2 separate regions of the Homo sapiens genome follow, and region 2 is linked to region 1. The links come from fine-mapping of genetic effects on gene expression. A gene starts in region 1. The other region holds a variant in brackets. All regions are shown on one strand. Distances are from middle to middle.

Region 1 (5,000 bases):
GGTCTTGGCCCCTGTCACTAACATCCTTTTCCATTTGAAAAAATGCATGTGATTTAGATTGTCCCAGTCATTGATAAACAGGAACAAGAAGGACTATGTTTCAGATAAGGCTTTTTCCTGTGACCTACTGAGTATCCACCCATATGTTACACCCAAGTCTACCTCTTTGCTAGTAAAACATCTCCAGATGCCTCTGAGGGAAAATCATGTCTGCCATCTTCCAGAGAAACTTATTCCTAATTTTGGTCATAGAAAGCTTTGGTAAAGTATCTATTTTGATGCATACAATATAATTGGTCTTTATAATTTTATCCCATTTCATCTGTGAAGTAAGCACTATTAAACCCAATATCCAGATAAGGAAACTGAATCATGAAAAGGATACGCAACCTGCTTAAGGACACACAGGGTAAATGTTAGAGGCATGCTGCTAATCTCAGGCCATCTGAAATTCAACTCATTTACCTGCTGTAACACGTTGCCTCTGGTGAGTAGTGTAGCTAATCTCTCACACCTGGAGAAACAGACTGCATCCCTCATACCTGGGTTGAAGATCCAGTTTACATCAGGAAGACCTTGGGCAAAGCCCTTCCCTTCTATAACCCTCATTGTTTGAATCCATAAAAAAAAAATTCAAGGGTTATATTGGCAGCATCAAAAGAGACGATGTATGTGAAAACACTTTGTAAACTACAAAATGCTTTTCAAAAGCTGATTGATATTTTCCAAAAGTACACTGGTAGGTTGCTTTTCCGATCTCGAAATGACAATCAAATCAAATCATCCCAACAGGAGAAACACCTTCTTTCTGTTTGGAGGAGTGCCAAAACGTTGTAAGACATCATGAGTCCCTCAAAAAGCTCTGGCTGGTGTGGACAGAAATATTTACACATTTCCCTGGATTAGAAAGCAGAGCAACATGACTGCTATACGGGCTCTGACAAGTGACTTGAGAACTGTTCTGGAGACGTTTAGGAGGCTTTATTTAAACAACAGATTCTGCAGCTAAAAATAAGCATATACTGTATTTGATACAATATATAATAATACATATATTATTTATAAATTTATTATTCTGAAATACATAGTACATATGTATATATAATTATATATCATTTATGTATACATATACATATATATTTTATCTTATCCCATTATCTTATGGGAATGTATACGAAGGAATACTTACTCTGCCTAGGAGAACCAGAGAATGCTTTTAGGAGGAGGAGGCACTAGAGTGGGCCTTGAAGGATGAGCAGGGAGGGGTGAGGGGAGGGTCTGCTGAACAAGCAGAACTCCATGAACAAGAGTGTGGAAGTCTGAAGATGCATGGCATAGCTAATAGTCCATAAGGAATGGAGTAGGCCATACCTGAGGCAGGATGGGGCAGGCAGGCAAGCTGAGTAATAGGTCAGATGAAAACTATACCGAAGGTCCTGTGTGTCATTTAAAAATAAATTTGATTATCCAGGTCAGCAATTCTCACCCTCCTAACATGGTCAAGGAAACTGGTTCCTGCAACCTGGAGGCTTGCTGGGGGTTAAAGAGGGAAGTGGTGAGTAAGGGAGGAGTATTACTTGGTGACTCCATGAACTGGGTTTTAGATTTAGTTTTTGCAACATCATTCTATACTATTATCCCCAGGCCTTCAGTAAAGCAATGTTCAGAGTAACTGCTTGATCTTAGCCAATTCTTAAGATATTTAAAAAAAAAAAAAAGGCTCCGTCCCAGGCTTGTACTGAACAGTGCCAAGGCTTGGAGAGCTGGTGCAGCTGGGGGAAGCTGGTCAGGACTGCTGGGGAGACTGCAAAAGACTCTAGAGGTAGTCTGGAACAAATGACGTGGTGAGAAACTAGAAGGGAAAATTTATGGAATAGGGAGCCTTCTCCAGGGTTTTCCAGAAATATTTACGGAGGGAAACCTAGTAAAAGAAGAAACTTCCAGCAGTTAAACAAAATGGAGGTTTGGAGTCGTCTTATCATGTCGACCCTAAAGAGTACTATGACCACAATAGGATGGAGGCCCTGGTGACATTTACTCCTTCAACAAGCTCTCAGAGGAATAAATCATGCTAAGCTGAGCCTGAGCCTCTCTTCTCAGAAGAGCTATTGCCTGGGAAACCCACACTCACCAGCCAAATGCTCTCTGTTGGTATTGCTTCCACCCTTGAGCCAGGCAGTCTAGCTGAAGGTTGCCATCCAACTTCAGCGTCCATGTGGCCCGGGGTTTTGCCTCTTGGATTAGTTCTTGAAATGTCTGCTCCCAAGTCCAGAAATCTACAACCATTTTTTCCCTCTGAAGCTGAGAGAGTAGCTTTCAGGTTTGCTCGTTTCTCAGGAAGAGACAAACAGTTTCAGTTTCGGTGTTCGGTTCAGTTTCTGTTTCTGTGTATGGACATGAGCTGTTTTTTTCAACCTTCATTTTAGACTGTCTGAGTACACAGAACAAGTCTTTGTTCTGAAAACAGACAGCAGCAAAACTGTGTTAGTTAATAGGCCTTGCTGAGAGAGAGATAAAGAGCTCTGTTCTAGATTCTGGGGTCACATATAAATTCGCTTTTATTTTCTCTCTCTCATTTTTTATAATAGGCAAAGTGAGAGGTGACAGCATGCTGGTAGCCCTCGCAGCCCTCGCTCGCTCTCGGAGCCTCCTCGGCCTCGGTGCCCACTCTGGCCGCGCTGGAGGAGCCCTTCAGCCAGCCACTGCACTGTGGGAGCCCCTTCCTGGGTAGGCCAAAGCCAGAACCGGCTCCCTCAGCCTGCTGGGAGATGTGGAGGGAGAGGCACGGGCAGGAACCGGGGCTGCATGCAGGGCTTGCAGGCCAGCTAGAGTTCTGGGTGGGCGTGGGCTTGGCGGGCCCTGCACTCGGAGCGGCCGGCAGGCCCCCAGCCCTGGGCAGTGAAGTGCTTAGCACCTGGGCCAGCAGCTGCGGAGGGTGCGCCAGGTCCCCCAGCAGTGCCGGCCCACCGGCACTGAGCTCGATTTCTCGCTGGGCCTTAGCTGCCTCTCTGTGGGGCAGGGCTCGGGACCTGCAGCCCGCCATGCCTGAGTCTCCCCACCCTGGGCTCCTGCATGGCCCAAGCCTCCCCGACGAGTGCCACCCCCTGCTCCATGGTGCCTGGTCCCATCGACCGCCCAAGGGCAGAGAAGTGCGGGCACACACGCAGGACTGGCAGGCAGCTCCACCTGCTGCCCCCGGGGCGGGATCCACTGGGTGAAGCCAGCTGGGCTCCTGAGTCTAGTGGGGACTTGGAGAACCTTTATGTCTAGCTAAGGGATTGTGAATACACCAATGGGCACTCTGTATCTAGCTCAAGGTTTGTAAATGCACCAATCAGCACCCTGTGTCTAGCTCAGGGTTTGTGGATGCACCAATCAGCACCCTGTCAAAACGGACCAATCAGCTCTCTGTAAAACAGACCAATTGGCTCTCTGTAAAATGGACCAATCTGCAGGATGTGGGTGGGGCCAGATAAGAGAATAAAAGCAGGCTGCCCCAGCCAGCACTGACAACCGGCTCGGGTCCCCTTCCACGTGGTGGAAGATTTGTTCTTTTGGTTTTTGCAATGAATCTTGCTGCTGCGCAGTGTTTGGGTCTGCTCTGCCTTTATCAGCTGTTAACACTCACCCGGAAGGTCTGCAGCTTCACTCTTGAGCCAGCAAGACAATAAACCCACCAGAAGGAAGAAACTCAGAACACATCCGAACATCAGAAGGAACAAACTCTGGGCACTGTGCCTTTATGAGCTGTAACACTCACCATGAGGGTCGGTGGCTTCATTTTTGAAGTCAGTGAGACCAAGAACCCACCAATTCCGGACACAAAAGCACTGTTTTTGGCACTGGGAAAAGAGTATCCTGTAGCTAAGAAACAATTCCTGCCCCCACAGATGCTCACACCCAGGTGGAGACAGGGAGGTTAGGAGCAGCGTAGGGGAGCACGTGTTTAATGCTCATCTCCTACACCCCATGTATCCTCACCAGTCCCGCGAAGGATTATTCTTGGAGTTTTGCAGGTTAACTGCACAGAAAGCTGGGGTACTTTGTCCAAATCCCCTCAGTTAACGAGCAGTGGAAGTGAGACTTGAACCCGGGTCTGTGTGACTCCAAAACCTGCCATGTGTCCGCCCACCTCACTCCCTGAAGAGAAGCTGAGAATGGCATTTCAGGTTCCAGGCTGGCACACTGGAGCCAGTGTCAGAGGAACCGTAGGGAGATTTCCTGGGTCCTGAGGCAGGAGGTCAGCTGCATGAAGGGATTATCAAACTCTGCCCTCCACTCTGTAAATTATGTGGAAGGGCAAATACGCACAGGTGTGGGGGCCGTCTTTCAGTGGTAGGATACAGAGAATTCCCATTTTGGGGTAAGGGATTGAGATGAGATGACCTTTAAAGACACTTGTAAGTCTAAAACGCGGAGATTCCAGAGAGTAAGCTTTGTCCTCCTGGGGCTTAAATTCAAATAGGGGAGATAGGACAAGCAGGATGCTTACTTAGGTCTTTAGAACACCCGCTACAGCTTCTGTGTCTGAGACAGGATCAGCCTCAGTCTTCCTGGGTTTTCTAGGCTTCCATGTGCCCTGTCAGCGACTCAGAGACACCCTCTCTCTTTCCTTCCCTTCCTGGATACCTGTGTCTATACACATGATATAGGAAGCTCTAAGAACTTGTAATTGGATCCACAGGATGTTAGAGTTGGGAAAACCCTTAGAAATCAACTTATCCCTTTTCCCTTTAATTTTTATACACGAGAAAACTGAGGCTGGGCACCGTGGCTCACGCCTGTGATCTCAGCACTTCGGGAGGCCAAGGAGGGTAGATCACTTGAGGTCAGGAGTTTGAGACCACCTGACCAACATGATGAAACCCCATCTCTACTTTAAAAATTACAAAGTCAGCCAGGCATGATGGCGCATGCCTGTAATCCCAGCTACTTGGGAGGCCAGGGCAGGGGAATTGCCTGAACCCAGGAGGCAGAGGTTGCAGTTAGCCGAGGTCATG
Region 2 (5,532 bases), 20 kb after region 1:
ACCAAGCTAATAGAATGTCAGCTTGTACCTAGACAGCTTGCCACAGCCAGGTGAAAATGTGCTTGAGAATGAAACCAGTACAAAGGGAAGCTTTAAGTACTTGTTTCCAGCATGCCGAAGAACATTCTGCCATATCTTTTGGTAATATGAACAAATCAGCTCCCTTTTTTTCTTAAGTCACTTTGACATGATTTCATTTACCACTTATAAATTAGAATTTTCTATATGTTTATGTTTTGTGCTCTCATCAAGTTTTAGCATCAGACATATCAATGCTAGCCCCATAAAAAGATGTAGGCAGATTTTCATATTGTTTGCATTCTTGGAACATGTTGGAAAGCAAATAACGCATACCTCCTTCCACCTTTATTTACAACACATTGAAAGATAGACACTGACCTGGGGGAAATTAAAATACCATACACCCTTTATTACCTGCAAAGATGGCCTGAAGGACATGAGCTCTGCGGACAAAGTGGGATCCTCCTAACAGAACTTTCCAGGCAACTGGAAGGTTCTGGAGAACCACAGCCTCTCCCACTGCCACCCCTACACCCACATACACAGGGTGGGGAGGGGTGGAGAGCCTTGTCTGGAGTCAGTTTTGGTTTTCTAATTTTCCTAAAGAATTCTGTATTTTGTTTAGATTTTCATCTAGTTATACTTTCCTCATTTCTAATGCTTTATATTTTTATTTTCTCCCTTCATTCAAGGCCCAAATTCCAAAGGACTTGCCTTTTTTTTTTTTTTTTTTTTTTTTTTTTGAGACAGAGTCTTGCTGTGTCAGCCGGGCTAGAGTGCAGTGGCATGATCTCAGTTCACTGCAACCTCCGTCTCCCAGGCTCAAGCAATTCTCCTGCCTCAGCCTCCCGAGTAGCTGGGATTACAGGTGTGTGCCACCACGCCCTGCTAATTTTTGTTTTTTTAGTAGAGACAGAGTTTCACCATGTTGGCCAGGCTGGTCTTGAACTCCTGATCTCAGGTAATCTGCCCGCCTCGGCCTCCCAAAGTGCTGGGATTACAGACGTGAGCCACTGCACCAGGCTGGACCTGCGTATTTTATTTATCTTTTTGAAGAATCGCCCCTTTTATCCATTAATTGTATTTTTTCATTTTTAGCATTCAGAGTCATTAATTTATGCTTTTATTTAATTAATTGTATAATTTTATATATGCATCTATATGGCTTATTTTGTTAACTTTTCTGTATTGAATTGAAGGCCTGGTTGTTATTTTGGGCCTTTTGAATTTAAATGTATGAATAGTGCTTATGCTTAGTACCAGCCCATACTTTTGCTGTATACTGTTCTTATTTTTGTTGATTTTTATATCTCAGAATATAGTTTTGATTTGATTTACAATTTTTTAAAGAAATTTGAGATTTTACTTGTTTAGTTTTTGTTTTTTTCAGTAGGTCTCAGTTTTGATCTAGCATTTATGTGGATCTAGCTTGATTGTGTGATAGTCCTAGAATGCAGTACACATTTTTTTTCCTGCTTCTATGGGCATATAATATACATTCTTTATAAGGTACCATATGCTAGATTATCTAGTAAATTCATCCTATTAATTATGTGACTAAACTCATTAATATTCTATTTTTGGTCTATTTGGTCAATTAAATTTAAAGACAAGGTGTTTAAAAACTCTTTTTTGTACAGAAAAATTGGAATGAATAAAAATTATTTAATTCTAGTGAGTCAAATTTTATTCTTATATCTAAGAACTGTGCTTTCTATATCTAGCAATACATTGTTTAAAGTGCATATAAGTTTATGACAAATATGGTCTTGATGTTTTAAATCAAATAGAAAATATTATCTTTTTCCATTTTTACTCCTGGCCTCAAAATTTATTTTTGAAATGTTTTTACATGTGTGTTTATTCATTTATGTTTGTTTTTGTTGTTGTTGTTTCTAGACGGAGTCTCGCTCTGTCACCAGGCTGCAGTGCAGTGGCGTGATCTCAGCTCGCTGCAACCTCCGCCTCCCAGGTTCAAATGATCCTCCTGCCTCAGCCTCCCAAGTAGCTGGGACTGCAGGCACGTGCCACCATGCCCAGCTAATTTTTGTTATTTTTAGTAGAAATGGTGTTTCACCATGTTGGCCAGGATGGCGATCTCTTGACCTCGTGAACCGCCCACCTTGGCCTCCCAAAGTGCTAGGATTACAGGCATGAGCCTCCACGCCCAGCCTATTTATTTTATTATATGCTTTTATGAGGCAAAATGTGATTTTTTTATATACGTGTACATTGTGGAGTGATTAAATCAAGCTAATGAACATATCCATCATGTGACATGCTTATTTTTTATGGTGAGAACTTCACAATTTTCAAGTATACAGTACATTATTATTAAATATAGTCACTAGGCTGTACAACTGATCTCCAGAATTGACACCTTCCATCTAATTGAAACTTGGCACCCTTTGACCAACATCTCCCCTTCACCACCCCACTCCTGCTGCCCCAGCCTCTAGTAATCGCCATTCTATTCTCTGCTTCTATGGGTTCAACTTTTTTTAGATTCCACACACAATTGGGAAATAGTCTCTTCAATAAACAGTGTTGGGAAAACTGAATATCCACATGCAGAAAAATGAATTTGGACCCTTATTTTATCCTATATATAAAAGTCAACTGAAAATGGAGTAAGGACTTAAATATCAGCCCTAAAACTATAAAACTTCTAGAAAAAAAGTAGGATAAAAGCTGCTTGTCATCGGCTTCAGCAAAAATCTTTTGGATGTGACTCTAAAAGCACAGGCAACAAAAGCAAAAGTGGACAAATGAAATTGCATCAAACTAAAAAGCTTACACATACCAAAGGAAACAACAGAGTAAA[G/C]AGACCAACTCTAGAATGGGGGGAAATATTTCCAAACTATGTAACTGATAAGAGGTTAATAGCCAGAATATATAAAGAACTCAAACAATTCAATAGGACGAAAGAAACCCAATTTAAAAATGAACAAAGGACATAAATAGATATTTCTCAAAAGAAGACATTCAAATAGCCAACAGGTATATGAAAAAAAATGTTCAACATCACTAATCATCAGGAAAATGCAAATTAAAACTACAATAAGATATTACCTCACACTTGTTTAAATGGTTTATATCAAAAAGACAAAAGATAACAAGTGTTGGTGAGATGTGGAGAAAAGGGAATACTTGTACACTGTTAGTGGGAATATAAATTACTATAATCATTATGGAAAACAGTGGAGGTGTTTCTCAAAATAGAACTACATATGATCCCACTACTGGCTATATATCCAAAGGAAATGAAATCAGTATGTCAAAGACATAACTCCACACTCATGTTCATTGCAGCATTATTCACAATAGTCAGATGTGAAATCACCCTAAGTGTCCATCAGTGGATGAAAAGATAAACAAACTGTTGTACCTCTATCCACTGAATACTATTTGGCCTTAGAAAAACCTGTCCTTTGTGGCTGGGCACGGTGGCTCATGCCTGTTATGCCAGCACTTTGGGAGGCCAAGGCGGGTGGATCACAAAGTCAGGAGTTCAAGACCAGCCTGGCCAAGATGGTGAAACCCCATCTCTACTAAAAATACAAACATTAGCCGGGCAGGGTGTCACCCACCTGTAATCCCAGATACTCAGGAGGCTGATGCAGAGAATTGCTTAAACCCAGGAGGTGGAGGTTGCAGTGAGCTGACATCGCGCCACTGCACTCCAGCCTGGGCGACAGAGTGAGACTCCCTCCATCTCAGAAAAAAAAAAAAAAAAAAAAAAAAACAAGAAAAATATGTCATTTGCAACAATATAGATGAACATGGAGAACATTATGCTAAGTGAAATAAACCAGCCATAGAAAGAAAACATTTGGGTTTTATGGTTTGTTTGGTTATAAAATATTTGATTACAAAATATAGCATACAGAAAAAGATGCATAAAACGTAAATGTGTGACTTAAAGAAGACTCATCTGTTCACTACCCAGGCCCAGTAACAGAATGTAGAATATGATGGAACTCTAAAAGCCAACAGTTCTTTTCAATCTTACCCTCAAGTATTAACCACTCTCGTGACTTTTATAGGAATTGTCTCCTTTCTCTTCTTCATATATCATCCACCAAAGTGTGTATTCCTTACTTCAAGGTTTAGATTTGCCTTTATTAAATTTACACTATAAAAATTATTTAGTATAAATTTGTTGTTTTACTTCTTTTGCTCAGTATTATCTTTTAAAGATTTACTTGCCTTTTGGGGAGCTATAGCTTTTTGGGTTGTTGATGATGCTTTATACTATTCCATGGTTTAAATATATGTTAATTTATTTTTCTCTTCCACTATTGTCTGCCATTTGGGTTATTTCCACTTTGGGGCTATTTCATATAGTGCTGCCATGAATATTCTTAAACAAATTTCTTGTGCATACATTTACATTGATTACACAACAATAAGTAGATTGTATTGTATGATACACATACTGTGTATCATCAAATTTGGGATTTGCCAAATATTGTACAAAGGGATTGTATCTATTTATAAGTCCCACAGACATGTATGAGTTTCTGTTGGCTCACATTCTCAGTGATACATGATTAGTCTTTTTGACGATAATGATTCTGGTGACTATATAGTGATACGTTCCAGTGGTTCTAATTGTGCATCCCTGAGATTACTAATGAAAGCGGTGCTTTTTCACATGTTAATTTCCCATTAAGTTTTCTCTTTTGTGCAATGTCTGTTCAAAATTCTTGGTAACTCTTGGGTTGTCAGCCATTTTCTTATTTATTTGTTTTTTGAATTATATTTTCTTCATACGAATCCCTTGTTGTAAAAATCTTCTCCCACTCTATGGCTTGTTTTTTCACCCTCAATAATATCTTTTGATTAACAAAATTTCTTCATTTTAATATACTCAAACTTCTCATTCTTTTATGGAAAAGAAATGTGTGTTTTTCGTGTCTTTTTAAATTAACTTTATAGGCCGGGCCCTCTGGCTCACACACCTGTAATCCCAGCACTTTGGGAGGCCGAGGCGGGTGGATCACCAGAGATCAGGAGTTCGAGACCAGCCTGACCAACATGGAGAAACTCTGTCTCTACTAAAAATACAAAATTAGCCAGGTGTGGTGGCACATGCCTGTAATCCCAACTACTCGGGATGCTGAGGCAGGAGAATTGCTTGAACCCGGGAGGCGAAGGTGGCGGTAAGCTGAGATCTCACCATTGCACTCCAGCCTAGGAAACAAGAGTGAAACTCTGCCTCAAGAAAAAAAAAATAAACAAACAAACAAACAAACAAATAAATAAATAAATAAATATTTACTGGAAATAGAAATTCTTCTATTTTATCTTATAAAAATATGTATTTTTTTGTTAAGTCTGTCACACTTAGGTCTCAAATCTCTTGAAATTAGTTTTTGCACGTGTTGTGAGATAGGGATCAAGCTTAGTATCTTTTACTTAGATAAAAAAAATACCCTTTCTCTACTGCTCTGCATTATGACCTATATCACATATCAAGTACTTATCTCTGCTGGAGTCTGTCTGTGG

The links. PIP is the estimated chance that this variant, and not a neighbour inherited with it, causes the effect.
Region 2: its variant is the best candidate, but not a certain one, in a credible set for the expression of RTP4 in substantia nigra (GTEx, PIP 0.72).

What each region holds. Positions count from the first base shown.
Region 1 is chr3:187,365,728-187,370,727 of GRCh38, reverse strand. RTP4 (receptor transporter protein 4) reads right to left here and starts at 2,343. Exons shown (of 2, transcript NM_022147.3): 1 at 2,132-2,343. The coding sequence starts at 2,286. RefSeq lists an enhancer at 2,133-2,482.
Region 2 is chr3:187,345,683-187,351,214 of GRCh38, reverse strand. No RefSeq gene overlaps it. Among named protein-coding and RNA genes, the nearest start is that of RTP4, 20 kb to the left of the region's middle. The variant G/C (reference allele first, on the strand shown) is at 2,846.